Linked DNA regions of Homo sapiens. The protein of the gene in region 3 interacts with the protein of the main gene of each other region in a pairwise test. Each region holds a gene or a part of one and is shown on either strand. Other genes may lie near its edges.

Region 1 (8,455 bases), on a different chromosome or scaffold from region 3:
AGCTTGGCCCCATGGAAACAACCTAATTCCAAGCTCAGCTGCTGTGGCAGGGGCTTGGGTGGGCCACAGCAAGCTGGCCGTGTGGATGGTGAGCACACACTCACACACTCATCCCAGGGGCAGCATGTGGGCAGCGGCCACACTCACCTCCGCAGAGCCAGTCTCGGTGCTGCTGAAGGCAGTGACAGCTTTCCTCCAGGAGTCGTTGGCTGGGGCCTGCACAGGGAGAGCTGCCAGGGGAGGAAGACAGAGTCAGGGCATCAAAGAGCAACCCGTCTAGAGAGTTTATGAGCTCTTAAAGAACAAGCACAGGCACAGCTTGCAGAAATCCAACTCCCCTGCCTCCCCTGCACCCGCCACCCCAGCCCCCTACCCGTGACACCCAGTGAACGGCTCTGACGTGGAAGAGCTGGTCTGACAGCCTTACCCAACTTTCCACATCCTCACCCAACGTGTTTCTCAACATCTCATGGATTACAGGAGAGAGTGAGCAGGGCAGAGCCCTCACTCCTGCCAATCTGGATTCTCTGTCGTTATTTCCGCTATGCTCATGCTTCTTTTCACTTATACTATTTCTAAAAGTTGGTAGCTTCTCTTTTTTTACATTAAAAAATATATCTTTCTTTTTTTTTTTTTTTTTTTTTGGAGACGGAGTCTTGCTCTGTCGCCCAGGCTGGAGTGCAGTGGCGCGATCTCCACTCACTGCCAAGCTCTGCCTCCCGGGTTCACGCCATTCTCCTGCCTCAGCCTCCCGAATAGCTGGGACTATAGGTGCCCGCCACCACGCCCGGCTAATTTTTTGTTGTTGTTGTATTTTTAGGAGCGACGGGGTTTCACCATGTTAGCCAGGATGGTCTCGATCTCCTGACCTGGTGATCTGCCTGCCTCAGCCTCCCAAAGTGGTGGGATTACAGACGTGAGCCACCAGGCCTGGCCTTCTTTTTTTTTTAAACAATAGAGACAGGGTCTCACTCTGTTGCTGGTCTTGAACTCCTGATCTCAAGTGATCTTCAAGCCTTGGCCTCCCAAACTGCTGGGATTATAGGTGTGAGCCACCACTCCTGGCCAAAGTTGGTGGCTTCTACAGAGTCTTTGAAAGATCCCAGCGGGTATTACTAAAAATTTTTAAGCTCACAGACCACTTTTTGAATGGCCATGGATCCGGAGCCCAGAAAAATAGATATGCATGCAAAAGTTGACATGCTAGCAGGGGGTGGGGGCACATATCTGCAATCCCAGCTACTCAGGAGGCTGAGGCAGAAGGATTGCTTGAACCCAGGGGTTCAAGTCCAGCCTGGGCAACATAGTGAGACCCCATCTTTAAAAAAAAAAAAAATCCTTTCACATGCTATTTTAATATCCAAGGGCTCTCTGAAGCCATCCCTTGGACACAACCCCTGGTCTGAGAAACCAATGAGCCCCTGCAGAATTCTGGAGTAAAAGATCTGACAAAAGGGGATGATGACTCACACCTGAGAGTCACATCTGATTCACACCTGGCAGCTCAACCAATCTGGCACCTGGGCATTTTTGGACACCAATACTATGACACCTGTCACTCAGCCACTACCAAATGTAGTGTTATTGATGTTTTATCAAATGGTTGTGCTTCCTTTCCATCAAAGCTGGGCATGTTGAATGTTATTTTGTAGTTTGCAAGAACCAAAGTTTTCACCGAGCACATGAGGACAAGCTATGTGGAAACAGTGAAAGAATCAAGGCCCAGAACTCAGTGTCTCGGGTGCTTGTCCTATGACCCTGGAGTCCCTGAGTCAAGTCCCTTCCCTCTAGAAGCTTCAGCTGCTTTGCAGAAAAATGAGCTGGCACTAGGTGACCTCTCCAAGCTCCCCTCATGGGCCTGAGCTGTGAAATATCGAATGTCCATGTTTTTATTCATCTATGCATGCTCTGGGCTAACAGCGCAGGGCCCTGCCTCACCTAAACCTCAAGAAGAACCTATTCTATGAAAATAGTTTTCTATTTTATAAGGAAAAATTCCCAGAAAAATTACATTTGATATAGAATTAAAAAAAAAAAGTTTTCAGGGCAACAAATGTTCTAAGAAGTAACGTATACCGTCTTCTGGTCTCAGTTTGCCTTTCCAGAAGAGCATTCAGGGAGGGGTTTCCAGAGCCTTCCCCATGTTAAGAAAAGGGTGCACAGCACAGAAGAGAGCTCCTGAACTCTTGCGGCTGGTCTATCTGTCATTTGCTTCTCTTCCATAAGTTAGTGGGAGAAAACGACGACCAACAAAGAAGGCCATTCCCACTACTGTGTGATCTAAGCCCAAGGGGCCATCCTTTTCCAGATCACCAGACTAATGAATGCTCTGCTCTTCTACCAATTTTAGGCAAGGAAAATTGTGTATCCGTTTGGGGGTTGCAGCAGCAAATCACTCAGACGGCATTCAGCGACTAGCTCAGCAGCGGAACACAGCAAACAGGTACTCCATCTGTATTCCATCTATATTCGTAGCTCAAAAGCAGGATCCTCCCCAGAAGCAAACCCAGTGTGTGATGTGACCTTGGGTGCCACAGCTGGGGTCACACCCCCAACTCTCACCCTGGCTGCTGCTCTCCCAGATCTCAGTGCCCAGGCTGCTGCCAGGCACGGTCACGTCACCTTGCTCCAGACATAAGTTGTTCTGCTTTTTTGCAAATCGAGGAGGAATACGGGAGGAAAGGCCTCGACCTTTGACAGGCACCTGAGGGGAAGAAAGGATGCTGTAGTCTAGCCAAAGGCACCAAGACTGACAAATTCTCCCCAGGATAAGTATCCCAGGTACCAAAAATCACACCACCTGAAAATGCTCCAGAGATGTGTGGAACGCTCGTCTCCCAAAACCTCAAGCAGAACTGCGATGCCAAGCAAAGCACCCCCCAAGAAAGACCTGAAAGGCCAACGGACTGTAATCTGTGTGCAGGTCCAGCCCTGACTCCATTTTAGTATAGCGTTCACGATCCACTTGACTTGAGGGAGACAAATCTCATTCCACTCAGGAATGAGGAGTGGGGAGGAAGGAGAAGCTGGGAGGTGACGGAGGTCTGCATCTTGCCTTGGACAAGTTTCCACTGTTATCACCCTAGAGAAGTCACCCTCTTCAAGACTCGGTTTCTTCCACTGCATAACAGTGATGCCACCACCTATTCCTACATTGATAGAAGGGCCTTGGTAATAGCAGGAACGGGGAGACAATGTGTGCTTGCTAAATACTCCTTTCTTCCTCTCTGCCACCTTGAGCTTGACCGAGAACTCCCTTACCCTCTGGCTCTGGGTTTCCTGGGCATCTGCCAGCCTGCCCTCCAGCCCCATGCCCCCCCACCCTCCGCCCCTCACCTGCACGGCCTGCTCCTTCTTTCTTCTCTCTTCCTCCAGCAGGCGGCGCTGCTTCTTGGTCAGGACTTCGATGAAGCCTTCGCCCACCATAGAACCCACCTCACTCTCCTCCCCGGGGCTGGACCCGCAATTTTCAATGATGGCACCTGAACCAAGATTTCACGAGAAGGAACAGTCTTTCCACTCACCAGGAGACAAGAACAACCCAATTCAACAGGCGCCTGAGATCTAGCATCAGGCTCGACAGAAACCTGGACAGGACTTCCGCACTTTTCTCAGGCCGCCTCTGATCTAACACATTGTTACCCCAAACCAAAGAGGCCCAAGGGCACAACTGAGAGAACACGCAAAGAGCTTAAACCCCAGCTCTGCTCCTACAGCTGTGTGTGACCTCGGACACACCACCGAACGTCTCTGGGCCCCAGGCTTCCTCTCTTTAAAGCCCGGAAGCTGCAGGGTGTCACGGGGATTCAACGGGCTGTGAGCAACACTCGGTGGGAATCCTACCTACTCTGCTCACCTCTACAGCCCCAGAACCCAGCCCAGGGCCTGGCCGAGCTGTTCCGAAAGCTAAGGTACTCAGTGCAAGGGCAAACTCGGGAGGCCCGAGGACTGCATGGCCCCTGGTTCTGCCTGAGTTCTTTCCCCTGAAGATATGAGGATGACTTACTTCCATAGTTCAGGTCAAACTGTTTCATGGCCTCTCCCTGTTCACCTGCCCTCGGAGCAGCCAACTTGGCCTCCTTCTCTGCCTTTTTACTGGAGGCTTCGGGAAGGTCAGCACTGGCATGGGCTGCCCGCTCCAGGGCATAGGGGGAGTGGCCACTCCCACTGCTGCAGCCACTAAGACCTCCAGGCAAGGCCTCGTCTGGGGATCTGTAAGGGAAAGAGGATCTTGTTAACCAGAGCTGGGGAAGGAGGGAAAACACCGCACGTGCACACAGCCTGCACACAAGCCCGGCACCCTGATCTAGGCCCACTTCCTCTAGCTGACTCCTCGGGTGGGGAGGAGCGGCAGGCTGGCCACAGTGCATCCATGTCCGTGTGCAAACATACGTGTAAGGCTGCCCCCACCGGCTCTGCCTGCTCCTGGGGAAAGTGGCTCCCCAGGGCTCTCCCACATGCTATGTTCAGAGTGTAGGGGGGAGAGAGACAAGGGGAATATGCTCAGAATGGAGACGCCAGCATTTCTGCTCCTCTCCAGGACTGCCCTGCCGGAGGGCCCTTGGGGCAGAAAACTGAGGTGAAGCCAAGGGTCAGCCTCTGGCGCCTGGAAAGCTGGATTAGATGCCACCTGAAAGAGTCGGTGTTCCCTGTGGCTCCTTCTCTGGGAGTTTCTCTGCCTTGAATTCTAAGGAGAGTGGAGGTGTGAAGCCATCTTCCTCAGTATGCTGAGGACAGGGAAGGCCTCAGCAGCCCCTGCACCTCCCTGTCCGAGGCACAAGCCAAGTGCAGTCAGTCAACCCAGACTGTGCAGGGGACCCTCTCCTGGTCCCTGAGCAGAGGTCATCACCCGAATGCCTCTGGCTGTGGAAGAGGTGCTCGCCAGACCATGTGCAGCCTGCTCCCCTCTGCGTTTGCTGGGCTCCTGCCATGCTGAGGTGGCAACCCCACCGTGGGGCCACGTCTCCTCACAGTGGAGAAGCAGAACCATCTAGGAAGAGCCACTTCCATGCAGCCACGAGGCCAGCGATGCCCCCTAGGACGCCGCCTGGCAGCAACTCCGGAGCAGAGGACTCTGGTGGACTGACCGGCACCTGGCACTGTGCACAGGCAACGTTCCTCGCTGCAGCGGCCCCTCGGCGGGGCTCCAGGGACACATGACTGGACTCTCAGGTCAGGTGCTGGACAGTGGCCTCAAGAGCACCACTGGGGTGGGGGTGGGGGTGGGAGCTCTAGCCACAATAACACCACCACGAGAAGCAGACAGGCAATGTGGGGGCAGGCAATGGAGACGCGCACAGACGGCCTGGGGGCAGGCCCCCAGCCCCGACACACGGCGGCATCGGCATGCATGCGTGAACTCAGTGCTGCTGAGAACAGAACACAACAACAAAAAGGGCCCAGATGGTGTCTGGTTTTACCTTTTCACTTTCAAAGGCGTCCCATTCTGTTGGCTCTCATAGCGAGGGGAGGTGTCACCACCACCTGGCCTAACGGGCTTCTCCCCAAACCCTCCCGGCTCCAGCTTTCGGCTCTGTCTGTCAACCACGGGTCTCTGACTGGAGAAGCTCCTCTTGGCCAGCTCCTTCTTCTCACCCAAACTAGCCCCCGACAGGCCACCATCCACCTGGGAGTCGGGCTCGGACCCAGGGCCTTCCCGCCGCTCCCGCCGCTCGCTGAAGTCGCTGCTTTCGGAGGCCGTCTCCCACTCCTCATTGGCGTGATCGGAGGAGTTCTGGTAGGAGAGCTCAGGGGACCTGCGGCCCACAGTGCCACTCTTGTCCCCAGAACACAGTTTGGGCCTGCCTGGCCACTGACCTGCCAGCAGGTGGGGCTCCTCCTCGGGTCCCCACAGGCCCAGGGACTCCCGCTCTTGCCGGAGGCGCCGGAATCGAGGGGGCTTATCTTGGCGTGGGGGGCGCCTTCTCCTGAAGGGCCGGTTCTCTGCATTTTCAGAATCTGCCACGTGTTCATCTTGGAAGAAGGATCTCTTGTCCTCCGCGCGGCTGTCCTCAAAGCCCCGGCCACCAAATGCGTCAGGGTGTCTGTAGGAATCTGGGACATAGTCTCTGTCTGTAGGTCGCCGGGATCCGCATGTGTCGGAAGGGCCATATTCCTGCCAAGAGCTGCCTGGACTTTTGCTCTGCCAGTGGGGTGACTCTTTGGAGACGAAGGTTCTCCGTCCATACCCGCAATTGCTCAGCCGGGGAGGGAGGGCTCGCCCAAAGGCCCGAGGGCCTCGGCTCTTGGCATCTAGACCGCTGTGGTCCTCAGAGCACCCCTTGTTGGACCGCCAAGAATCTCTGCAGTCGCCCTTCTTCAAGGTGCTCTCCTCCCTCTCCAGGAGCGAGCCTTCATTCCCGTTCTCGGAGCCCCTCTGCCGGCGGCGCTTGGGAAGTTCTTCATACTCTGAGCCCTCGCTATGGGTCTCACTGGCAACTCTCCGTCGGGGCTTGGCTCTGGGGCAGTCCTCTGGCCGCGCAAACTCTCGCAGGCCCCGGCCACGGCCGCTGCGCTGACTGCTGCAGTAGATGCTGCGGGCCCCCAGGACCCCCCCACCACAGAGGCCGCTCCCATTTCCGCCAGCAGGCCGACCACGAAAAGTGAACTCTCTGAAACCACGGCCCCGGCCCCGGGCCTGTCCTCTGACCCCAAAGGCTTGCTCCTCATCAATAAAGATCCAGTTATTTCTCTTCATGGGGGGAACATCGCTGGACTCTCGTGGGGGTCTGGCTTCCCAGGCCTTGTCAGGTTTCTCCTCCTCTTCAAATTTGGTGGCCTCGCGGCCAAAAGTGGCATGGCCAGGGCCTTTGTCCTCCAAAGTGGTGGTGGAGGAGTTGGCCAGAGAGGCATCGTTCTCTTCGTCCTCATCCTTTTCTGCCGTGGGGCTCTGCTCCTTCTCCTTGGCCAGCCGGGTACTCTCCTCCCCTAGCTCCTGCTTAATCTTCTCAAGCTCCTTCTCCTTGTCTTCCACCTTGAGGGCTTTCAGGACTGGTTTCTTGATGGGTCCCGACCTCCGGGTCCTGCCCGTCTGCTCCGGGTGCTGGCTGCTGGAGCTCCGGGGCTCGGGAGTCCATTCAGGCTCCGAGGATGGCTGTTTGTTGGGGCTCCCGTTCTTGTCCCAGGAGGAGATGTTAAAGGCCGTCCCCTCCCGGGGTGTCTCCCGCTCAACACCATGGGCTGTGTCAGCGGTCTCTGGCTGGTGGCTAACATCCCAACTGCCACACTCTGGCTTTTTCTCATCTGGGACAAAGTCAGGCTCCAATGGGGAACACCTGAGGTTTTGGGTGTGACCCCCAGGAGCACCTGCATCCTGAACATTTTCTTGGGGTGGAAACAAAAGCTCCTGGCCTATTCTTTGAGAAGAGATACAGCTGTCAAAGTCTGCTTGGGCCTTCTTGTCAAAAGCACTCAAGTACTCCTCCCCTCTCTCCTCAAAGAGATCGCGCTGAGCACTTACGCCCCCTGCCCTTCCGAGTGAGGCAGAGAAAGAGCTTTCATTCCTGAAAAGGAACCAGAAAAATCAGTCAATGCGATTGGAGCCTGGTTCCTGGTTTCCATGCTGAACACAGAGCTTAGTTTTAAAAAGAAAAAACAAAAACAAAAACTAAAACACTTTTTAAAAAGAAAGCTAGAAAAACAAAACAAAAAACAACAACCAAAAAAAAACATAAGCATCAACATTTGTTCTATCTTTAAACACGTCTCAGAAATGCCAGGCCATGAATTGGTCGGTGGCCCCTGGAGTCCTTGAGAGTGAAGACTGTCGTGGCCGCAGGCTGGGTACGGTGTGCCCCCTGGAGACAGAGGAGCCAGGCAATCCTCCGGGTCAAAGAGCAAGAGCAAGCTGGAGCCTGGGAGGCCGTGAAGAGTCTGGGGCTATGGGGGTGGCAGGGCTAACTCTGTTTACTTCCACAGAAATGAGCCAAGACCCATGCTCTGGACCCCACCTGCCTTGTGAAGCCCCCACCCGCCTGCCCTGTGCCCAGGATTTGAGGACCCCGGGACTTCTCCTTCACCTTACGTCTCACCATCTGAAAAGAGCCTCTTGGACAAAGCATTCAAGCAATCCTCCTCACACTCTCCTTCCCCAGAGGAACCAGGAGTCCCTTCAAGGAGCACGTCTCCCGTGGGCAGTGTCTCCTAGGATGGTAGCTCATCCCAGGGCCCTCTCAATTAGGACCTGGAGTCCTCCTTCAGTGGCAAGGCAGCAGGACCAGGCTTCATCTCACCTGACACGCATGTCCATAGCCAAGGTGTCACTCGACTTCGGGTGCGGGAGCGGGTAGCCCTTGCTCTGCAGTGCCATGTAGCCCTCTGGGCTCCACACAGGGGGTGAGTCGATGGGGGTCACTTTTCTTTCTTGGAGTGGGGGCACACAGTTCTGATCCTCAGAGCGACAGCCTGTCCCATTGAGGGACTCCTGGGGCATCATGGGCTTCATCAGTCCTGAAGA
Region 2 (8,579 bases), on a different chromosome or scaffold from region 3:
TTAATCAATCTATGTGTCCTCACCAGAGTAGCAAATGACTCTTTCTTGGTGCTAAAAATTCTTTATTGTTTTTTGTCTCTGGCAGGCTTTTTCAGCCTCTGTCTAACTGGTTATATCACCTACACTATCAGCACTGAATATTAAAAATTCTTATTTGAAGAAACATCCTCTTTAGACGTTTCTAGTTGATTGGTTGTTCATGTACAATGGCACTATATTTTAGGTCATTTTACTATATAGTGAATTGTTATACAGCTGTCAAAATGTACATCCTTTCACACTGCATGCTGCATCCTTATTTTTGTTACTTGAAATTTTAAAAGCTCCCATCTGAACATTTTGATAATCTCTCAGAACCATCATTATAATGGGGTGCTGTAGCAAATTATGAGGAATACAAACACAGCAGTATCTGAGAAAAACATTTCCATGTGAGTAAAGTATTTTCATTTGCACTTCAATGTTCTGAGCATATAGTGATATGGTTTGGCTGTGTTCTCACCCAAATCTCATCTTGAACAGCAGTTCCCATAATCCCCCTGTGTCTGTCTTGGGAGAGATCCACGGGGAGGTAATTGAATCATGGGGGCAGTTATCTTTATGCTGTTCTCGTGATAATGAGTGAGTTCTCACAGGATCTGTCAGTTTTATAAGTGCCTCCCCGACCTTCACTCTGCACTTTTCTCTCTGGTTGCCATGTAAAGAAGTACGTGTTTGCTTCCCTTTCTGCCCTAATTGTAATTTTCCTGAGGCCTCCCCAGCCATGTGGAATTGTAAGTCAATTAGACCTCTTTCCTTTATAAATTGCCCAGTCTTGAGTATGTCTTTATTAGCAGTGTGGGAATGGATCTAATACATATAGTAAGCTCTTTGTTGAGACAAAGGGTGAAAGGATCAGTCCTGTTCCACCTTGATTTTGGACTCTTATTGAGCCAGAGCTATATATACTATGTAATTAGCAACAAGGAAAAGTTGAAACACAAACACCAGTTCGTGTTGAAGCAGTGGTCTAAGAATACTCTTCCATCTTCCCTCCTCCTTCTTTCCTGACTTTTCAACTTGGTTCTGCCTATGACTGCTAAATGTTAGCTCTATTACTCTCACCTCAATCTCATCTGGCTTCTTTTACTGTTTGTTCATTTTTCTCTATTATCTGAACTTTAGGCTGCCTTTATGGAACTTTTCTTAATTCAGCCATCCAGCTCTAAGCACCCCTTATAGCCTTGGGTAGATAGAGATTCCCCAATCTAGCCTTGGCCTAGGAAGAACCTAACCACCCTTCCCCAGTCACACTGCAAGACAACTCAATAGAAAATAGTAACAGTCATTTAACTAAGCCATTTAGAAAACACTGACAGGTTTGTTTCTGCTTTAATTACCTTAAAGATAGAACACAAAATCCAAGGCTTTGGTTCCTGGGGTGTCATTTTGAAAAATAATTTACAGCATTTCAGACTTCACAATCTTTATTTAATCTCCAGTATGTAGGGCACATTTGTGCTAAACAGAGTGTGGTAGGGTACAAGGTTTCAAATAGGGCACATTAGTGCTAAACAGAGTGTGGGAGGGTACGTGGTTTCAAGTAGGGCACATTAGTGCTAAACAGAGTGTGGGAGGGTACAAGGTTTCAAATATAAAAGCATAAATGAATAACTTTCACCTCTTTCCACAACCCTTTTTTCATCCTTCCTTTTTGCCATCAGCTGTGCTCTCTGTTGGGTGATGCAGGAGCTGGCATTCCCCCAGAATGGAAATGGGCAAAATAAGAAGGCAGTGGAGGACCAAATATCGGAGGAGGAGCAAAAGGAAGAGGCATAGTGAGAAAGGGATTGAAAATCGGAGGTCGAGGAGGGATGAAACAATGAACAGTAGAGCAAGAAGGTAAACCTGGAGTACTGGAAGACAACGGGATAGGCCTTGGCCAATTATGCATGGGGTGGCATGGGCCCCTGAGTGGGAAAGAAACATGAGCCAGCTTTCCTCTGCAGGCTATTCGTGTATTTCCGGGCGGCACCTCCATTACTATCCCTGATCTAAGGGTGGGAATATGTGAAGGGCCTCTCACTTGTGGGCCCCTGGGTGGAAAGAACCCTTTACCTTGTGGCAAAGCTACATGCAACCTTGCGTTATTACTGCCTCTCTCAGTGCCCCCATTGTTGACCTTTGTGCCCCCTACTATCAGTGCAGGAGGGCCGCCAGAGACTTCCCAGGACACATTAATAGCATCCTGTCCCTCCTGCCTCCAGCCTGCCAGTGCATCAGAGCTGTTTACTTCTGCTGTTGCTAGGGACTCTTCTGCAACAGCAGGTGGTGGCCCGTAGGGGTGTCTATGAGCTCTCAAGCTATGAAGAGGAATGCAGGATCCTGTTCTTTCAGAGGGCCACTCCAGTTGCTTGCTATCCAGATCAGTCAGCACATTGACGGAAGGTCTCAGCGGTACTTGAGGTTGACCCCAGGGCTCTGCGTCATCCTCTGGCTTGGAACTCAGACATTGCAGGGGCATGTCGTGGTGCAGCTCCTGGTTCCCATTTTTGTCCACAGATACTACCAAGGGTGAAGGGGCGTGCCCTCCAAGGCTTGCAAAAACAGAAATCAAACAGCTAATAAAAATGGAAATGCACTGACCAGAAAATAGCTACAATATGTAATTGACTGAGCTCACTGAAATATACCAGGGAAAAAAGGAGTGCCCTCTCCCCTATATGTAGCCAAATACTTGCTCAGCGCTCTGGCCCCTTCCCAGGTGGCTTCTTTAGTACTAGGCTACATGATTACCCTTCATGACTACTCAGTGGCCTATTTCATTCCTCATTTCCCCACCTCCACAAGGCAGCAAGGAAGCTTAGAAGATGCACATAACTTAATAGTAAGCATATAATAGAAAATACCAGCTTTTTCAATTCTCTCTAGGATCTATGATTCACTAATCCTGGCATTCAGATTCTGGCAAGATTGTTCTGGTATGTCTTCCGAAGTAAAATATCTTTTTCTTCACAGAAGTCAAAGAAAAGTTAGTTATGTTAACAAACACACAAGTTTCTCTTCTTGAGGTATCATTCAACACTCACACCAAATTTTGTTAAAAATTCTTTCATTCAACCACCACCACACCCTAGAGTAAGAATTTCCTCATGTTTAAACCCCACTGTTTAGACTAGGGATTTGTAAATTTTCTTTCAAAATTACACTTCAAAGTTGCCACTCTTAAATCCGGTATTCTTAGTAACTAAATTTATGTCCTTCAAGTTTTTGTCTGTAATTTCCTCCCACATCTCCTCCAACCCATTCATCCCTGTCCCAGTTACACAATAAAGCAATTCAAACTGACTTTGCCTTCAAAATTAAACAGTTGTACTCGGTTTTGTACTTACACGTTTTCAATACAAGCCATGAAGAAATTTGATCAGAATAGCTTTCCTGAGGTGGTGGAGATAACCCACTGAACAGGCCAGCTAGGTCTGGAGAAATGACTCCTGCTTCTGCTTTAGAGGCTTGGCAACTAGAATGAAGCCAGGGACCAACTGCTTCTTTCTAGATTTGGAGTTCTCTTTCTGGGGTTACCAGTTGCTAAGGAAGGGAGGGAGAAAAGGAGTGGGGAGGGGGGTGGGTGGGGATGAATCTGTGACACTCCTTTGAACTTAAATGTGGGACTGGTGTTTGCACAGTAGTAGATGGATGGTAAAGGCATTCACTACATTAATTCTGATGCAGGGCAGTTGGAAAGACAAATCATTTCAAGAAGGATTTAGAAGAATCATGGAAGCATGATATTTTTTAAAGAGTTATTTATGAAGTTTTAGTTTCTACAAGGTAGTTGTCAAGTCTCCTCAAATTTGGAAACACATTGAGCAGAGTATTGTGCCTAATATTGTAACTTAAACTTCCAGTTTGGGGATGCATATTATTAACTTGGTGGAGAACAGAGGTTTGGGGGCTAAATTGCTTTTCTATCTGTGAAGATGAAACAAGAACTCCTCTAAGAATCATTGTGACATTATTTTTTAGCCCCTCACGTTGCAGTTATATCCTTCATCTTGTCTGTTAGTTTATAAGCTCTCTCTCTCTCTCTCTGTCTCTGTCTATGTCTGTGTGCACGCGCGTGTGTGTGTGTGTGTGTGTACGTGTGTGTATTTCCTGTAATAGAGCTCTGGAAGTTTCTCTCAAGTTGGGAGGGTCAGAATAAATGGCATAACAGGTATCATAAATTTATAAATATTAGCTTAGGTTTGGCCATGCAACATTTTTGCATAGGGAACTTTCTGTTTGTCCAGCCTAAATTTCATTTTAAGCAAGTTTACTTTCCCAGCTTTCTTTTCTGCCATTGATCTACAGATTAATTGCTCCGAAATTACAACAACCATTCCATCATCCAAGACAATTACTGTTGCTCTAGGACAAAGCCATAAACTTGGCAAACCTGCCTAAATTTACATAAAATTTGTGCTGTGCAGGCTAGACCTGGGAGATTGTGTCTTCCTTATTTTCAATATTAGTATATGTTGCTACAGTTCAACAGTAATGTATATTTCTTTTCTCTTAAGGAAAGATAACAGACTCAAATACCATGTGCTTCAATTTTTAGATATATGGTGTCTGTGTATCTGTGTGTGTGTGAGAGAGACAGAATAATGCATAAGTACAAAGTACTAATGTAAAGGAATGGTCACTACTGCAAATCAACACAACTCATATAGAAGTAACCTTTGGGGTCTGCAAGTCCACATCTTCCTGCCAGAGTGTGTTGTCTCCATCTATACAAGAAAGTGGCATGTTTCCAACATATTTTCCAGAAGAATCTGTTCACTTGCCTAGCATGGTTCACTATTAAGTAATCTCTTGATTCCCCAGATTCTGTTTCTATTCTTGCTTCAGTTTATTACGCACCTTGTCCTTATGTAAAAATAATAGTATTATTAGCAGTATTATTGTTGTGGGGTGTTAAAGCTCTTTTACTTCTTGTCGTATCAGAGAGGAAATTGCAACTTGGGTTAATGCCTGCTAATAGTTGGTGAATCACATTTAGATAAATAGTTTCAGTATAATAGGTTGCATATTTTTTTCCTGATAATAGCAACAAAGCCTGAGGAATGCCTTTTGTTCTTATCAAATTACTATAATAATAAACAATTTTACCTAGAAATACCTGTTTGGTAAGATATCATCTTAGTTGGATTACATAACAGTATGGTGTAATATAGGAACCAAATTGCTGGGAACAATGACAATGACCATGGCACCAAGAATTTTCCAAAGCCATGAAGTGTATAATTTATGGATATTACCTCATATTTTGTTTGTAACTTGTTTTCCTTTGTGCAAATAGTCCATATTTATTGAATGTCTACTGCGTGCATTCACTATTGTGTTAAGTGTTGATTTTACCAAAAAAGTTAAATATGCAATCCATATTGACTTCAGGGAATGTTCTAATTTTCTTGGGAGGCAAAATAACATCTATAAAATTATTGAAGAATGGCATAAAAAATAGCCACAGACCATTAGCTGCATGGTATAAGCTAAGACTGCAATGGAAATTCAGAAGAAGGAACTATAATTGTGGGTTAAAGTAGTTGTGACACAGTTTATGTGGGATTAAAACTTCTGCTGTGTTTTGAAAAATTGATATACATGGGCAGAAAAGGAGATGTCATGCTATGGGAAGAACAGTTATAGAAGTAGAAATAAAGAAAAAAATGGCATTTTGTAGTTCATATTTTAAATCAAAACTAGGGCTCATATTTGGCAGAAATAGAAATATAAAGTACCAATTAGACCCCTTAGAGATAGCGATCAACCAGATAATTCATGAAGTTTTACCCATAAATTTTACCCATAAATAAATATTTGAATACATTCAAATTTCAAAGTTAAATACAGCTATCTCAAAACCTACCTTTTCGCAAAAAGCTATCAGGGTAACTCAATCATCCACTGAGCATTGAAAATTCAGTAATAAAGTATATGCCTTTTTCTTTACTTCACTTAAATAACAGTTTTGGGGAGAGAAACATGGGTAATGAAGGTTGAAGTTTCACCAAAAAGTAGCCTAGTTAGCAAGGCAGCTGTTTGAGTCCATTTTCTGCTGCTATAACATAATACTTGAGACTGGGTAATCTATAAACAAAAGAAATGTATTTATCACAGTTTTGGAGGATGGAAAGTCCAATATCAAGGAACTGACTTCTGGCAAGAGCCTTCTTGCTGTGGCATCCCATGACAAAAGGTGGAAGCACAAGGGAGTGAGAGACAGCAAGGAAGAGAGGGCCAAACTCACTTTCATACCAACCCACTCTAGCAATACCAAACTCACTACTGCCTTATCAACATTAGTCTATTCATGAGAGTGGAGACCTCATGGTCTAATTAATCTTAATGGTCTCACCTCTTAATCTGTCACAATGGCAATTAAATTTCAACATGAGTTTTGAAGGGGGCCTAAGAAGTAGCTAAGGTATAAATGCCTTTCATTACCCATAGCCTCTTTATTCATGACACAGTTCCAGATATCATTTATTTACCTCTCAAAAAATTTTGATGACAGTATTGAAATGCTAAGTAAGGTCTGTAGAAAGATATATTTACTTTTGCACAGCAATTATGACTTTAATATAAATATGATTTCTGGGAATGGTGGCATGCACATGTAATCCCAGCTACTCAGGAGGCTGAGGCAGGAGGATGGATTGAGCCCAGTGGTTGGAGACCAGCCTGGGAAATATAATGAAACCCCATCTGAAACTTTTAAAAAAGTGTGGTTGATCTACCAAAATTGTGTTGCTGTGGGGTTTTTTTTAAAGAAATTTTGCAGATGTGTAAATGAAGGCAAAGTATCATTTAAAATACACCCTTTCTCTTTTGCTTCAAATAAGAATTCAGGATATAAAGACATAAAGATGATTTTTCTCTGTTTCCATCTAGCTTATAAGGAAATTGTCATGTTGACCTCTGGGGAGACAGTCATCAGAAAATCCTACCCATTTGCTCACTTTCCAAATGTAATTTGGCTATGCATGTGAAAAACTCTCTAAGTTTATGATGTCCAAAAAGTGCTTCTGGAAGATATACCAGGTTTTTGAGGAGTCTGTAGTCATTTATTCCATGTATTAAAGCATGAGAATCGTGAAAGCATGATACTTTCCCAAAATGGGCCAGGCAGCATTATTCTATTACACAGCTATAGGCAGTAGTCCTGTCTTCTCTGCCACCAGCTGTCCTGCAAACTCTGTGTGGTAATTGATGAGAACAAACAGGTGAGAGTGTGGCTATATCACCACCAGTATTGGCAAAAGCAACTAACAACATGTGCCTCACTGCTGGATCTAGCTGTATGAAATTCAATAGACTATTATTGCTTTTATAGAGTTTTTTGTTTCAGATTTAAATATTTACATATTTGTTTTAAGATGGGTAACATGGCAATTACTTCCAAACAGGTTATCTCTTTGTACAAATCAGAAGCTATCAGAAGTTTCCTCAACATATATCACTCATTTTTCTTGCTCTCATGGGGGTCGGAACCAGAAATTAAGTAGCACCAGGGCAAGTGAGATGAGAATAAAAAAAGGAAGAAGTAAAAGAAAATCTATTTTTTTTTACCACTTACTGTACACCAGACATTTGATATACATTGTCTCATTTAATGGTCACAGCAAACTTTTAAGGCAGCTATTATTATTATACTCATTTTATAAATGAGGAAAAAGAGAGTCAGAGAAAATAAGTAGAAGTTTCCCATGGTCCCAAAGCTAGTAAATGGCAAACAATATTCAGATACAGCCAATTTGACACCAAAGCCAATATTTCATTCATTTAATCACGTGGCCTCTAAATTATAGTTCTAGGTCAATCACAAAAGTGGATCAGATAAAAACGTGTGTACCAAATCTGAGTTTAGGTTTTTTGTAATGCATGGACCCATTGACCCTCATCCAGAGGTAGTTCTGCAATGAAGAAATCATCCAGGCTATAATGCTCACATCCCAGAAAGTCTGCCTCTGCAGGGATGCAGCAAGTGATTGAAGTGTTAGTTAATAATGTAGCAAGGTGGTGATGACTGAAAACACTGTCTTGGAGCAATTGGGGTGGGTGACAGATAATAGGAATTGGTTATAGGACAGCATCAAGTGACCATTACTGAGGAGCTAATGGCAATATGAGCCCAGCATTATCAATATTAAGATTTAATTAATGTTGAGCTCTTGAGCTGCACATATAGAAGATATAGGGTTCCTCATATTATTTCCATGGTAGTGTGTGTGTGTGTGTGTGTGTGTGTGTGTGTGTGTGTGTGTGGTGAAATGGGGGCCGAGCTTGAGTCATCCAAGTGAGGTATTAATGATAACCCTAGAGAATACCCTTCTGAATTAGATAAATATATAAATTAAAACATAAAAGCAATATGTTTATGTTCATATAGGGCATATAATATAAATTAAGATGCAAACATGGACTAATAAAATTAGAACAGTTAATGAAAACAGGTTAAAGTTTACAGAAAGCATCAGGCCATAAGTTTATAATGGTGTAATACATGTATTTGCCATGTCAGATTTAATTGCTGGGCCCAGGAGTTGAGGGCA
Region 3 (5,658 bases):
AAAGATAAAGCATGGCACCTGTCGTCATGCTTGCCACCTTTCAGCACCTCTCGGCTCAGCATTCTGAAAGCCGGGAACTCATCTTTAAAGGAGGCCAGGACTTGAATACAAGCAAGAAAATGGCATAAAATGAAGGAATTAGCCACTCGAGGTTGAAAACACACTTCCCTAAAATGACAGCAGCATTTGGAGCTGCAGGTGGGAGCACACAGCCTACCTCTAACTGGCCTGTCAGAACAGACACGTTTTCCCGTTCTCATTTTGTGTTTCCTTAAACCAACTACTAACTTCTGGCAGAGGTGGTGACTGCCTGGGAAAGATGCCATCCTCATCTGGCCCCCTTATCTATCAAGATGCAAACTAATAAAACCAGCGGGCGGGACACCCATTTAACCTGAAACCTCCTCTTTTGTTAAAAATGGACTGAATGTGTCTTCCGGTTAATAATAAACTTTGCTGGGCACTGGAATAACCACCAGCCTCCTCAACCGTGGCTGCTCTCAAAAGCAGATGTGGTGTTCCCTGTCCCGAGAAGGCTCCAGAGTATTTGGATTAAGGACCTGGATATGCAGATCCTACTCTTAAGAATTAACATTTCCTCCCTACCCCTCAAATGTAAAACTGGAAAAATTAAGAACTCTGTATTTTGCATTGCATTCTCTTAAAAATTCTGTTAAAAAAATCTCTTCACAGACTGGGTGTGGTGGCTCGTGCCTGTAATCCTAGTACTTTGGGAGGCCAAGGCGGGCGGATTGCCTGAGCTCAGGATTTTCTGGGCTGAGGCTAATATTGCATAACTTTATCACATACTTGTCAACTTCTGCAGATGTACACAATGTGCATTTCACTGCTTATAAATTTTACCTCAAAAGGAAAACAAACTAAACAGGTATTAAACTCTTATTGCATAAATAATAAGAGGCATTGGAGGATGAATGGAGAGAGACGGTGAGGAGCCAAGTCCAGAAAGGGGGTAGCGGTGCCCAGGTGCTGCACGCACCGCTGCGTCTGCACATTCATGTGATGAGGGGTGGGTGACGGTGCCATGTAGTTTATAGTCTTAAGGAAATTAACAGCTCCCTCTTCCAAAGCGAGGGAACGAGAATCCCACACCTTGAGAAACACAGGGCTTTCTACGGTGACTCCCCGAATGGCTCTGCAGCTTAAAAAGCTCCAACACATAAACTCATCAAGTAGGGTGAAGAATGAGGTGACACCAAGTTTGCTAAATAGTATTGTTTATTAAGGCTTGTATTCTCCTAGAGGAAAAACCCAATGTCGTCCAGGACTCCATTCAGGCAGTAACAGTTCAGAGGAAGTGACACGCTCTAAATACAAGTCTAATGATACAGCTGAAACGTTAACTCAGAGGGTCTTTTGGAGCAAGTAGTTTTCAGAAAGCGTCTGCTCTCTAGGACGGTAAGGATCCTCTACAAGGGCACGTGCAGATCCAGGCGCTGGAGCGTCAGGCATGGGCACCATTTTCATGCTTCAACTCAAACTCCAGGTGGTAGTGAGCTCAACGGTCCCTCATTCCACAAAACATGACAGCAAATTCATCTTCTAAAAAAAGTTTTGTTTTGTTTTTACCCATTCAACAGGAAAAAAAATTAGACACACACGATGAAATTTACAACCAGCAGCATCATCCATCACACTGTCTGTACTACCAGATCCTACACTTAAAGCTCAGCATTATTGGTATAAAAACTTAAGACGGCATTAGAATTCTTAAGAAAAGGTGTAAAATTTAAAAAGATGTGCAAACAACAAAGAATGCCCGACCCTGAACCAGACCTAAAGCACCTTCCAGTTCCTCCACACATCATGCCCCAACACCATCCAGCCCAATCGGACACCAGGACAGTGAGGGACGGGTGGCTGTTCAGTGGGCAACAGATCTGGAAGGAAAGATTTTCAAAAAAAAAAAAAAAGTGTCTGCCAAATTTGAAAAATTAAAAGTTATCTGTCTAGCAGAAAAATCAAATGGGTAAATTAGCACTTTAGACCGATAACAGATAATAAAATGACAAATCAGAATGAACAAAAAATCATTAACCTTTTGATTTCAGTATTTTCAAGAGATTTTATCAGAATACTCTAAATGACAAAATGACTCATGGTTTCTTATGTTTGCTAAAAAGCAATAAAGGGATGAGAAATATGAAGTCTCACAGAATATCAAATGACTGAATTTAAGAACACAATTTCTGCCAAAATAGATGCTTTGTTTTTAAGGATACTTACATTTCACATTAGATCAGTCTGATTGATAAGCTGACAAAAAAAATACTCCTTTATTAGTGACTTCTACAGGATTATAATACATAGAAAAAGTACAAATAAATGCAGATCCATCTGGGCAAAAATCAACGACAAGAAAGGCAAAGATGCAACACTCAACCCCCGCACGGGACGACACACTGGAGCTGACCAAGCACACGTGTTTTAAACTGTTTTCAAAGTCAAACGTTAGAACATGTAAGAAACTGGTTCGCCCTCATTGTTTGTTTCGACTCTGCCGTTCCTGTAAAAAGAAAAAACAAAAGTTGAACGCAGAGTAACCACACCAATGAATCCCTCCCAAAAGTGAGATCCGAGGCTGCCCCTTAGCAGCACCTGCAAATCTGGAGGCGGGACCCTGAATGGTACCCAAGCCACACCAGCACACAACTCTGAGCTGCACTGGGGCCTGCTCTGTGGGGGACTGGCCACACTGGGCATGGCATTCTCCCCACCCCCTCTACCAGGAGAAAAGCATCAACCACAACGGTCACATGGGCCACCTGTCTGCTGGGAAGCCTCACTTCCCACAGCTGTCTTTCCCTCATGTGCCACTATCATTCCACATGGAAAGACACTTAGCAATGTGAAATTCTCTGCACTCAGAGGGAGGAGCTGGCACGCACCAGGCTCTCAAGGAGGCCAGGGAGACAGAAGCTGTTCTTCTGTATTTTATCTCATTTAAACTTCTCAGTGGCACAAAGGACACCAAAATCCTTCCAACTGGCTAACAAGGTGCTGTGTCATGTGGCTAATGAAGGGCAGGAGGACCGGTGTGGGCCTGTCCAGTTCAGGCCCTTCCCACTCCCCAGCTCACTCCCACGCCAAGGGGAAGAGCATGCCCCTCCCCACTCCCCCACGGCTAGACTGGCTCAAGGCAAAGCTCCTCTGACCAGGTTTGCTGCCCACTCCCGTAAGAGAATCATCTTTTCCAGAGTGTATGTGACACACAAGCTTGAGACTTACACCCGAATCTTTTCCCACACTGGCCTCCCTGAGTAGCAGGGTCTAGAAGCCCCTTCAGTCTCCTTACAAGGCAGCATACAAAGATGAAAATGTGCGATCTAAGGAGCACACGCTGCACCACTCTGCTAGAGAGGTGTCCCAGGCCGAGTGTGGTGGCGCACCCTGTAATCCCAGCTATTCGGGAGGCTGAGGCGAGAGGATCGCTTGAGCCCATGAGTTTTCGGCTGCAGTGAGCTATTATCTGCCCTGCACTCCAGCCTGGGCAACAGAGAGAGACCCTATCTCGAAATAAAAACAAAACAAAAAGATGCATCCCAGGCACATCCACCCTCATCTGGCCATCTATCAAGATGCAAACTAATAAAGAAAACCAGCGGGCAGGACACCCAAACATTTAACCTGAAACCTCCTCTTTTGCTAAAAATGGACTGAATGTGTCTTCCGGTTAATAATAAACTTTGCTGGGCACTGGAATAAACACCAGCCTCCTCAACTGTGGCTGCTCTCAGAAGCAGATGTGGTGTTCCCTGTCCCGAGAAGGCTCCAGAGTATTTGGATTAAGGACCTGGATAGGCAGGTCCTACTCTTAAGAATTAACATTTCCTCCCTACCCTCAAATGTAAAACTGGAAAAATTAAGAACTCTGTATTTTACATTCTCTTAAACATTCTCCGTTAAAAAAAATCTCTTCCCAGGCTGGGTGTGGTGGCTCATGCCTGTAATCCTAGCACTTTGGGAGGCCAAGGTGGGTGGATTGCCTGAGCTCAGGAATTTGAGACCAGCTTGGTCAACATGGTAAAACCCCACCTCTACTAAAAATACAAAAAAAAAAAAAAAATTTGGCAGGGCATGGTGACCGGCGCCTGTAATCCCAGCCACTCTGAAGGCTGAGGCACAAGAATTACTTGAACCTAGGACGCAGAGGTTGCAGTGAGCTGAGATTGTGCCACTTCACTCCAGCCTGGGGGAGACAGCGAAACTCTCAATCAATCAATCTCTTAACAAAAGAGGTACTGCTGTTCCTAAAAAGCAAATACCAATCTCTTGAGTTCAAATAGCTGATGTTAAAGCCACTCACAGGTAAACTCCCCAGATCCCCATCTCCCTTCAGCCCTTATAAACAGCTACAAAGTTTACTATGTGCTCTTTAAAAAATACTATTCCTCATAAAATTTCTCAAAAAAAAAAAAAATGACGAAGCACAGCTCGTTCTTTTGAGGAATGCTCAACAAGCATCCAGGAAATGCTTATGGCCTAAGATTCTCTATGCTCTTTCTTAATTTCCAAAGTCAAAGAGCCACTCTGCTGAGCCGGCCTGGAGGTCGAAGTGGGGTCAGGTCAGGGGCACCTGCCGCCAGGGCAAGGACAGTCAGTCTGAGGAACTAAGCAATGCTCACAGTGTGGGACGCTCACCACTTTCACTGTTTTAAGCTAAGAAGTGGCCGTTTCTAGGTTTTTTTAAAACCAAAAAATGTATCAACCCAGGACTTGGTCTGACTCTGCTGCCATAAAAGCTACTGCCATCCTAAGAAATCAGTATGTTTCTAAATTTATAGCTGGACAGCAATCTTGCAAAATGCTAACTCTACTTCACTTTCTCAACACTCAACTTGTTTATGACCTTTACAGCAATGGGGCCAAACTCTAAATGATAAAGAAAAGGTGGGTCTGTTCTTCGAAGTCCTGAGAGAACCTTGAGAAAACCGCCCGGGGGCTCTACCAGCACAGGCGCACAACCCTCTCCTCGGCACACTACTTTGTTCTTAAAACTGCACTGACTCGGCCGGGCGCAGTGGCTCACGCCTGTAATCCCAGCACTTTGGGAGGCCAAAGCGGGCGGATCACGAGGTCAGGAGATCGAGACCATCCTGGCTAACACGGTGAAACCCCATCTCTACTAAAAGCACAAAAAATTCGCTGGGCGTGGTGGCAAGGGCCTGTAGTCCCAGCTACCCGGGAGGCTGAGGCAGGAGAATTGTGTGAACCCAGGAGGCAGAGCTTGCAGTGAGCCGAGATCACACCACTACACTCCAGACTGGGCAACAGTGCAAGATTCTGTCTTAAAAAAAAAAAAAACAAAACAAAACTGCACTGACTCTTCATGGGAAACCCAGAGGGAGAAAGCATTAGACACCCAGAGTCTCAGCCTCAAGACACCTAAGACTCCAATCCTGGATGAGCCACTAGCCCAGCCCGTTAAGCACAAGGCCTAGAGCACCTTCGCAGGCAGGGAGAGCCAGCAGCGAAGTCCAGTCTGGGGACCTCCTCAAGGACCACTTCCATTTCTCTACACTGCCCAATAAGCTTAAAAGATATTTGACGCCGGGCACAGTGGCTCATTCCTATAATCCCAGCACTTTGTGAAGCCAAGGTGGGAAGACTGTTTGAGCCCAGGAGTTCAAGACCAGC
Region 4 (8,455 bases), on a different chromosome or scaffold from region 3:
CCAAAAAAAAAAAAAAAAAAAAAGCCCAGGATGACAGAAATAAATTTTTTCAAACAATATGAAAACAGATGGAGTGGCTGGAGATACACAAGGAGGCAGGGACATGCTGCTCTCTGAGCCCTAGTACGTCCAGCCCTCCTTCTGGCCCCATTCAATGGGTTACACAGGGCACCACTTGGCCAGGGGTTTCCCAGGCCTCGAGGAACACAACTTAGAGAGAGAGAAGACACAATCAGGAAGACCTATTTAATCAGCAGTTATAGACGTTCTGTTATGGTTCTTATTTATTTGTAAAATATCCTCAGACAGAAGCCTCAGAATCAGCTTCAACACGGGCTACAGGCCCTTTACTCTTCAGTCTCTTGAAGAAAAAAAGTCATGTTCTAAGAAATACAAAGCTCTCAGGATCTGGCCCCTAAAGTCCCCACAGGCTACTTTACCTCCTATAAACACATTGTGAACTCTACCCTATAGCCCTGTCAAGGCTCAATTCTGCCATTGCCTATGCAACCCCCTCACTCAGTGTGCTGTAGAGCACTAATTTCAAGACTTGCCAGAATTTCTTTTTGTTTTTTGAGATGGAGTCTCGCTGTTTCGCCCAGGCCAGACAGTGGCGCGATCTCGGCTCACTGCAAGCTCCGCCCCCTGGGTTCACACCATTCTCCTGCCTCAGCCTCCCGAGTAGCTGGGACTATAGGCACCCACCACCGCACCCGGCTAATTTTTTATTTTGTATTTTTAGTAGAGACGGGGTTTCACCATATTGGCCAGGATGGTCTCAATCTCCTGACCTCGTGATCCGCCTGCCTCGGCCTCCCAAAGTGCTGGGATTACAGGCGTGAGCCACCGCGCCCGGCAAGACTTGCCAGAGTTTCTATGATCACTAACGAAAGAATGACTTTGATATAGTGTGGATATTTGTCCCTACCCAAATCTCATGTTGAAATGTAATCTCCTGCTGGTGGCTCACGCCTGTAATCCCAACACTTTGGGAGGCCGAGATGGGCGAAATCACTTGAGCTCAGGAGTTACAGACCAGCCTGGCCAATATGGCGAAATCCCATCTCTACTAAAAATACAAGAATTACCCGGGTGTGGTGGCACACGCCTGTAGTCCCAGCTACTCGGGAGGCTGAGGCAGGAGAATTGCTTGAACCCGGGAGGCAGAGGTTGCAGTGAGCCAAGCTCGTGCCACTGCACTCCAGCCTGGGCAACAACAGAGTGAGACTCCGTCTCAAAAAAAAAAAAAAAGGAAATGTAATCTCTGCTGTTGAAGGGTCACAGAATGGATCCCTCATGGCTTGCTACTATCCTTGTGATAGTGAGTAAATTCTCATGAAATCTTTTTTTTTTTTTTGAGATGGATTCTTGCCCTGTCGCCCAGGCTGGAGTGCAGTGGCACAATCTTGACTCACTACAACCTGCACCTCCTGGGTTCAAGCAATTCTCGTGCCTTAGCCTCCCAAGTAGCTGGGAATACAGGTGCACACCACCACGCCTAGCTAATTTTCTGTATTTTTAGTAGAGACGGGTCTCATCATGTTGGCCAGGCTGGTCTCAAATGCCTGACCTCAAGTGATCCGCCCACTTTGGCCTCCCAAAGTGCTGGGATTACAGGTGTGAGCCACTGCGCCCAGCCTCTCATGAGATCCTGTTGTTTATTTTATTTATTTATTTATTTATTTTTGAGATGGCATCTCACTCTTGTTGCCCAGGCTGGAGTGCAATGGCACGATCTCAGCTCACTGCAACCCGTCTCCCAGGTTCAAGCGATTCTCCTGCCTCAGCCTCCCAAGTAGCTGGGATTACAGGTGCCCACCACCACACATGGCCTTTTTTTTTTTTTTTTTTGAGACTGAGTCTTGCTCTGTTGCCCAGGCTGGAGTGCAGTGGTGTAATCTCGGCTCACTGCAACCTCTGCCTCCCGGGTTAAAGCTATTCTCCTGCCTCAGCCTCCCAAGTAGCTGGGACTATAGGCGCAGACTGCCACGCCTGGATAATTTTTTGTATTTTAGTAGAGATGGGGTTTCACTGTGTTGTCCAGGCTGGTCTGGAACTCCTGAGCTCAGGCAATCCGTCCACCTTGGCCTCCCAAAGTGCTGGGATTACAGGCGTGAGCCATCATGCCCAGCCAATCTTGTTTAAATTGTGTGGCACCTCCCCAACTCTCTCTCTCTGGATCCTGATTTTTGCCACGTGACACGCCTGCTCCCGCTTCACCTTCTGCCCCTGAGTGAAAGCTCCCTGAGTCCTCCCCAGAAGCCAAACAGATGCCAGCACCATGTTTCCTATACACCCTGCAGAAATGTGAGCCAATTAAACCTCTTTTCTTATAAATTACCCAGTCTCAGGTATTTTTTTATACCAATGCAAGAACAGCCTAATACAGACTCAATCCAACTTCCACCAGTGTTTACTGAGGCCTACTATGTGCGAAATGCTGGCCAGGTGCTATGCATCGTAAAAGCACACAACAGGCCCTGGCTACAGGGAGCTTCCAATCTAGTGACAAAATGATTAATTCAGAATAGACTAACCATGAGAACGAACAGGTATGGTACCGAGGAAGATTGGAGAAAGATTGCATTTGGTCAACAGAATTAGGAAAGGTTCATGAAGGAGATGGTATAAAATACTAGCCTAGAAAAATAGGATTTTAGAGGCCAGCCACGGTGGCTCACACCTGTAATCCCAGCACTTTGGGAGGCCGAGGTGGGTGGATCACTTGAGGTCAACAGTTTGAGACCAGCCTGGCCAACATGGTGAAACCCCGTCTCAACTAAAAAAAAAAAAAAGAATTAGCCGAGCTTGGCAGCTGGTTCCTGTAATCCCAGCTACTACGGAGGCTGAGGCAGGAGAATTGCTTCAACCCAGGAGGAGGAGATTGCACTGAGCCGAGATCGTGCCACTGCACTCCAGCCTGGGCGACAGAAGTGAGGCTCCATCTCAGAAAAAAAAAAAAGGATTTTAATAAGCAGGGAGTACGCAGAAGGGGGCACTGGGAGGAAGCATGGCAAAGGCCATGGCAAGGGTTGGCACAGATTCTAAGCACCATGCAAAAGGAAGGCTATAGGAAAGGCCTTTGGAAAACCACCCAAAGAAATGTGCAAGAACTACATACTGGGGAGAGACTTTCACAGCCCTCAGAGCTGCCCATCCCAATAAGGAAGGGCATGAGGTCACAAGCACAGTTGCAGTCTTACCTTTTCTGAATGAGTCCAGGCTGAACATTTCTGGCCAGGAGGGAAAGCTGGAATCCTGAGAACAAGGAGGGCCAAGAGGCAATGGTTAATATTCCTGGTCCAGCAACCCACAAAGAAGACTTCAGTAACATGGAGAGCACTGTTCAGAAAATGAAAAAAATGAAACTCTTCACTAATGAGCCCCAACTGCTGCTCCCCAGTCTTGAGGACTGGAAGGCCAGCTCCACTCTAGAGTAATTGTCTTTGCTTCTTTCTAATTGAGCACTTTCTTCCCTGTCCTAAAACTCCCCATATCCTGTTAAACAGAGGGAGATGCATTTCATCATGAGAGACATGTAGTTCTATCTAGTTCATCATAATACTTACAGGTTTCCTTCCCAGTTCATCATAATACTTGCAGGTTTCCTTCCTAGTTATCATAATACTTGCAGGTTTCCTTGGGACTTCCAGGAAGAAACGAAATTCTACATGGACCCCTTCTGTCATGTGGCATCAGGAAACAGGACTGATGACTGCCTTATGGGCAAACTGCCTTACTGGGCTTTCATAAAACCTAGTCAAGACCCTAAAAATGAGATTTGACTGACAGGATCAAAGAATAACTGTACAGTGATTCAGAATAAAAAGCTTTTCATAGCAGTCTCTATGAAATAACAAATATTAAGTTAAAGCACAACTATTAGCCAAAAGTTTTGGTGCATTTTGCTTATTAGTATATTTAACTGAGGACTATACTTAGAGATGACAAGAAAAAAAAGCAACACATCTGGTTTAACAATTTTGTTTTAAAAAATACTCAAACTCAGATTTATAGATGTTTTTATAATCCAGTACTCCTTGATTAGTGCAGTAACCTTAAATGGACTTTGTTTAAAAACATCTACACAGTGTTTAGCCAATCAGAATCATGTCCAACATTGATTGGAGTCTACTGGGGCCAACACTCCGGCTCCTGACTCCTGTTCCCTCTCATTCTCAAATTGTGGGGAGGTGGGGAGTGGAGGGCTGACCTGGGGCGGAATCTTTCAGGTCCATAGCAGGTCTGCCCTGATGGCCTCCACTCCCCAAGGGATGCTGGAAATTTCAGCCCATAGGATATGGTATATCACAGAGAAAACTTCAATACAATATCAACAATGATAACATTTACTTTAAGAAGTTACATTCCGGCCAGGCGCGGTGGCTCACGCCTGTAATCCCAGCACTTTGGGAGGCCGAGGTGGGCGGATCACGAGGTCAGGAGATCGAGACCATCCTTGCTAACACGGTGAAACCCCGTCTCTACTAAAAAAATACAAAAAAATGAGCCAGGCATGGTTGTGCGGGCCTGTAGTCCCAGCTACTCAGGAGGCTGAGGCAGGAGAATGGCGTGAACCCAGGAGGCAGAGCTTGCAGTGAGCCAAGATTGTGCCACTGCACTCCAGCCTGGGCGACAGAGTGAGACTCCGTCTCAAAAAAAAAAAAAAAAAAAAAAAAAGAAGTTACATTCCATAGACACCTTCTATCCAAATGAAAATAAAAAGTGTGTAATTTGACATTCTAATTTAAAAGAAAACCAGAATATTATAAAATCTAAAACATTTTAAGTGAATATTACTTAAAAAACAATACTCCCTGACCAACATGACCCCGTCTCTACTAAAAAAATACAAAAAATTAGCCAGGCACGGTGGCAGGCGCCTGTAATCTCAGCTACTCGGGAGGCTGGGGCAGGAGAATCGCTTGAATCCGGGAAGCAGAGGTTGCAGTGAGCCGAGATCGCACCATTGCACTCCAGCCTGGGCAACAAGAGTGAGACTCTGTCTCAAAAAAAACAAAAACAAAAAACAAAACTCGGCTGGTTGCAGTGGCTCATGCCTGTAATCCCAGCACTTTGGGAGGCTGAGGTGGGCGGATCACCCTGAGGTCAGAAGTTCGAGACCAGCCTGGCCAACATGAGGAAACCTCGCCCCCAGTAAAAATACAAAAATTAGCCAGCTGTGGTGGCGCATGCCTGTAATCCCAGCTACTCAGGGGACTGAGGCAGGAGAATCGCTTGAACCCGAGAAGCGGAGGTTGCAGTGAGCCAAGATCACACCTCTGCACTCCAGCCTGGGCAACAGAGCGAGACTCCATCTCAAAAAAATAAAAATAAAAAATAAATTTAAGAAAAAAAAAAAAGAAACAATACTCTATTGCTACGAAATGGTAAACTGGCTAGGCACAGTGGTTCACACCTGTAATCCCAGCGCTTTGGGAGGCTGAGATGAGAGGAGCACTTGAGACCAGGAGTTCAAGACCAGCCTGGGCAACATAGTGAGACCGCATCTCTAAAAAAAATTTTCAGAATTAGCCAGGTGTGGTGGTACATGCTTGCAGTCTTAGCTACTCAGGAGGCTGAGGCAGGAGGATCACTTCGCCCAGGATTTTGAGGTTTACAGTGAGCTGTGATCACGCCACTGCACTCCAGTCTGGGTGACAAAGCAAGACCCTGTCTCTCTTAAAAAAAAAAAACAAAAAGTAAGGCGGGTGCAGTGGCTCATGCCTGTAATCCCAGCATTTTGGGAGGCCGAGGCAAGCAGATCACCTGAGGTCGGGAGTTTGAGACCAGCCTGACCAACATGCAGAAACCCCGTCTCTACTAAAAATACAAAATTAGCCGGACGTGGTGGTGCATGCCTGTAATCCCAACTACGTGGGAGGCTGAGGCAGGAGAATCACTTGAACCCAGGAGGTGGACGTTCCAGTGAGATGAGATTGCGCCACTGCACTGCAGGCTGGGCAACAAGAGCGAAACTCTGTCTCAAAAAAATTTAAAAAAAAAAAGCAAAATTTAATGGCTAGGTGGGGTGGCTCATGCCTGTAGTCCCAGCACTTTGGGACGCCCAGGTGAAGGATCGCTTGAGGCCAGGAGTTCAAGACCAGCCTAGGCAACACAGTGAGACCCTGCCTCTAAAAAAAAAATTTGTAAGTTAATTTGCTTGCAAATAGACTCTTGATTTTGCTTTTTTTTTTTTTTTTTTTTTTTTGAGACAGAGTCTCGCTCTGTCACCAGGTTGGAGGGCAATGGCGTAATATCAGCTTACTGCAACCTCCACCTCCCGGGTTCAAGCTATTCTCCTGTCTCAGCCTTCCAAGTAGCTGGGACTACAGGCACACGCCACCATGCACGGCTAAATTTTTTTGGATTTTTAGTAGAGATGGGCTTTCATCATGTTGGCCAGGATGGTCTCGATCTCTTGGCCTCATGATCTGCCTGCCTCGGCCTCCCAAAGTGCTGGGATTACAGGCATGAGCCACCGTGCCCGGCCAGTTTTGCTTTTTAAAAGTCCCTAAACCTCTAGCCCAATATGTCAATTTAGGCTCATGTACCATTCTTTTTCCTGTACTAATCTAAAAAAACGATACTATGAGAATCAAGACAGGATCTTTTAGAGACAGAATTTACAGAGCTCTAGAACATTTCATAGAGATCCAAAAGAAAGCGGTCTTCCTTGTAATGCAGTCAGTAATGGTGTTTTGTTTTGAGACAGAGTGTTGCTCTTGTTGCCCAGGCTGGAGTGCAATGGCATGATCTCTGCTCACTACAACCTCCACCTCCCGGATTCAAATGATTCTCCTGTCTCAGTCTCCCTAGTAGCTGGGATTACAGGCACCCGCCACCACGCCTGGCTAATTTTTGTATTTTTGGTAGAGACAGTGTTTCACCATGTTGGCCAGGCTGGACTCGAACTCCTGACCTTGTGATCCGCCCGCCTCAGCCTCCCAAAGTGCTGGGATTACAGGCATCAGCCACCACGACCGGCCATAATGCAGTAATGTTTAAAAATCTTTGTAGTGGGCCAGGCTTGGTGGCTCACGCCTGTAATCCCATCACTTTGGGAGGCTGAGGCAGGCAGATTGCCTGAGGTCAGGAGTTCGAGCCCATTCTGGCCAAGATGGTGAAATCCTGTCTCTACTAAAAATACAAAAAAAATTGGCCAGGCACGCCTGAGCGCAGTGGCTCACTCCTGTAATCCCAGCACTTTGGGAGGCCGAAGCAGGTGGATCACAAAGTCAGGAGTTCGAGACCAGCACGGCCAACATGGTAAAACCCCATCTTCACTAAAAATACAAAAAATTAGCCAGGCGTGGTGGTGCACGCCTGTAGTCCCAGCTACTCAGGAGGCTGAGACAGAAGAATCGCTTGAACCCGGGAGGCGGAGGTTGCAGTGAGCCAAGATTGCACCACTGTACTCCAGCCTGGGTGACAGAGTGAGACTCCATCTCAGAAAAAAAAAAGAAAAAAATTGGCCAGGCACGGTGGCTCACACCTGTAATCCCAGCACTTTCGGAGGCAGAGGCAGGCAGATCACAAGGTCAGGAGTTTGAGGTTAGCCTGACCAAAATGGTGAAACCCCATCTCTACTAAAAATACAAAAATAAGCCAGGCGTGGTGGTGCGCACCTGTAATCCCAGCTACTCAGGAGGCTGAGGCAGGAGAATCGCTTGAACCCAGGAGGCAGAGGTTGCAGTGAGCCAAGATCCCACCACTGCACTCCAACCTGGGCAACAGAGTGAGACTCCCATCTAAAAAAAAAAAAAAAAATACAAAAAAATTAGCCGGGCTTGGTGGCATGAGGCTGAGGCAGGGGAATTGCTTGAACTAAGGAGGTGGAGGTTGCAGTGAGCCAAGATTGCACCACTGCACTCCAGCCTGGGCGACAGGGCAAGACTGTCTCAAAAACAAAAAACCTTGTAGCTCAATGTGTCTCTTAAGTAATTTACAGATAAGTAAAATGCTATTATATCAAGATTTCCTGCATAATGAAATACAATTTAACTCCAGGTAGAGTCACTTGGGGATGGTTCCAGGACAGAGACTCCACAATGACTAAAAATGATACCCTTCTGGCTGGGCACAGTGGCTCATGCCTGTAATCCCAGCACTTTGGGAGGCTGAGGCAGGCTGATCACCTGACGTCAGGGGTTTGAGACCAGCCTGGCCAACATGGTGAAACCCAGTCTCTACTAAAAATACAAAACAATCAGCTGGGCATGGTGGCAGGCGCCTGTAATCTCAGCTACTTGGGAGGCTGAGACAGGAGAATTGCTTGAACCTGGGAGGCAGAGGTTGCAGCAAGCCAAGATCGCGCCACTGCACTCCAGCCTGGGGGACAAAGCGAGACTCTGTCTCAAAAATAAAACAAAATAAAATAAATGATATCCTTCTTCCAAAATGGTCAGAAATAGGTTTAACACATACCTCTTGTTTTACAGTACAGCTGAGCATC

What was found.
Region 1: the proteins of YTHDF1 (region 3) and PRRC2B interact in a two-hybrid assay, tested with the Homo sapiens proteins (2 studies listed by BioGRID, with this or other methods).
Region 2: the proteins of YTHDF1 (region 3) and PRR32 interact in binary tests that used the Homo sapiens proteins (3 or more experiments, as listed by UniProt).
Region 4: the proteins of YTHDF1 (region 3) and DHX30 interact in a two-hybrid assay, tested with the Homo sapiens proteins (2 studies listed by BioGRID, with this or other methods).

What each region holds. Positions count from the first base shown.
Region 1 is NC_000009.12:131,473,501-131,481,955, reverse strand, and holds part of PRRC2B (protein PRRC2B), read right to left. Parts: intron 8,449-8,455; coding exon 8,232-8,448; intron 7,503-8,231; coding exon 5,421-7,502; intron 4,213-5,420; coding exon 4,007-4,212; intron 3,483-4,006; coding exon 3,337-3,482; intron 2,705-3,336; coding exon 2,563-2,704; intron 231-2,562; coding exon 148-230; intron 1-147.
Region 2 is NC_000023.11:126,814,656-126,823,234, reverse strand, and holds PRR32 (proline-rich protein 32), read right to left. Parts: upstream 3,507-8,579; 5' UTR 3,392-3,506; coding exon 3,372-3,391; intron 2,577-3,371; coding exon 1,700-2,576; 3' UTR 1,449-1,699; downstream 1-1,448.
Region 3 is NC_000020.11:63,194,208-63,199,865, forward strand, and holds the end of YTHDF1 (YTH domain-containing family protein 1), read right to left. Parts: intron 2,528-5,658; coding exon 2,501-2,527; 3' UTR 1,222-2,500; downstream 1-1,221.
Region 4 is NC_000003.12:47,805,460-47,813,914, reverse strand, and holds part of DHX30 (ATP-dependent RNA helicase DHX30), read right to left. Parts: intron 3,259-8,455; 5' UTR 3,232-3,258; coding exon 3,204-3,231; intron 1-3,203.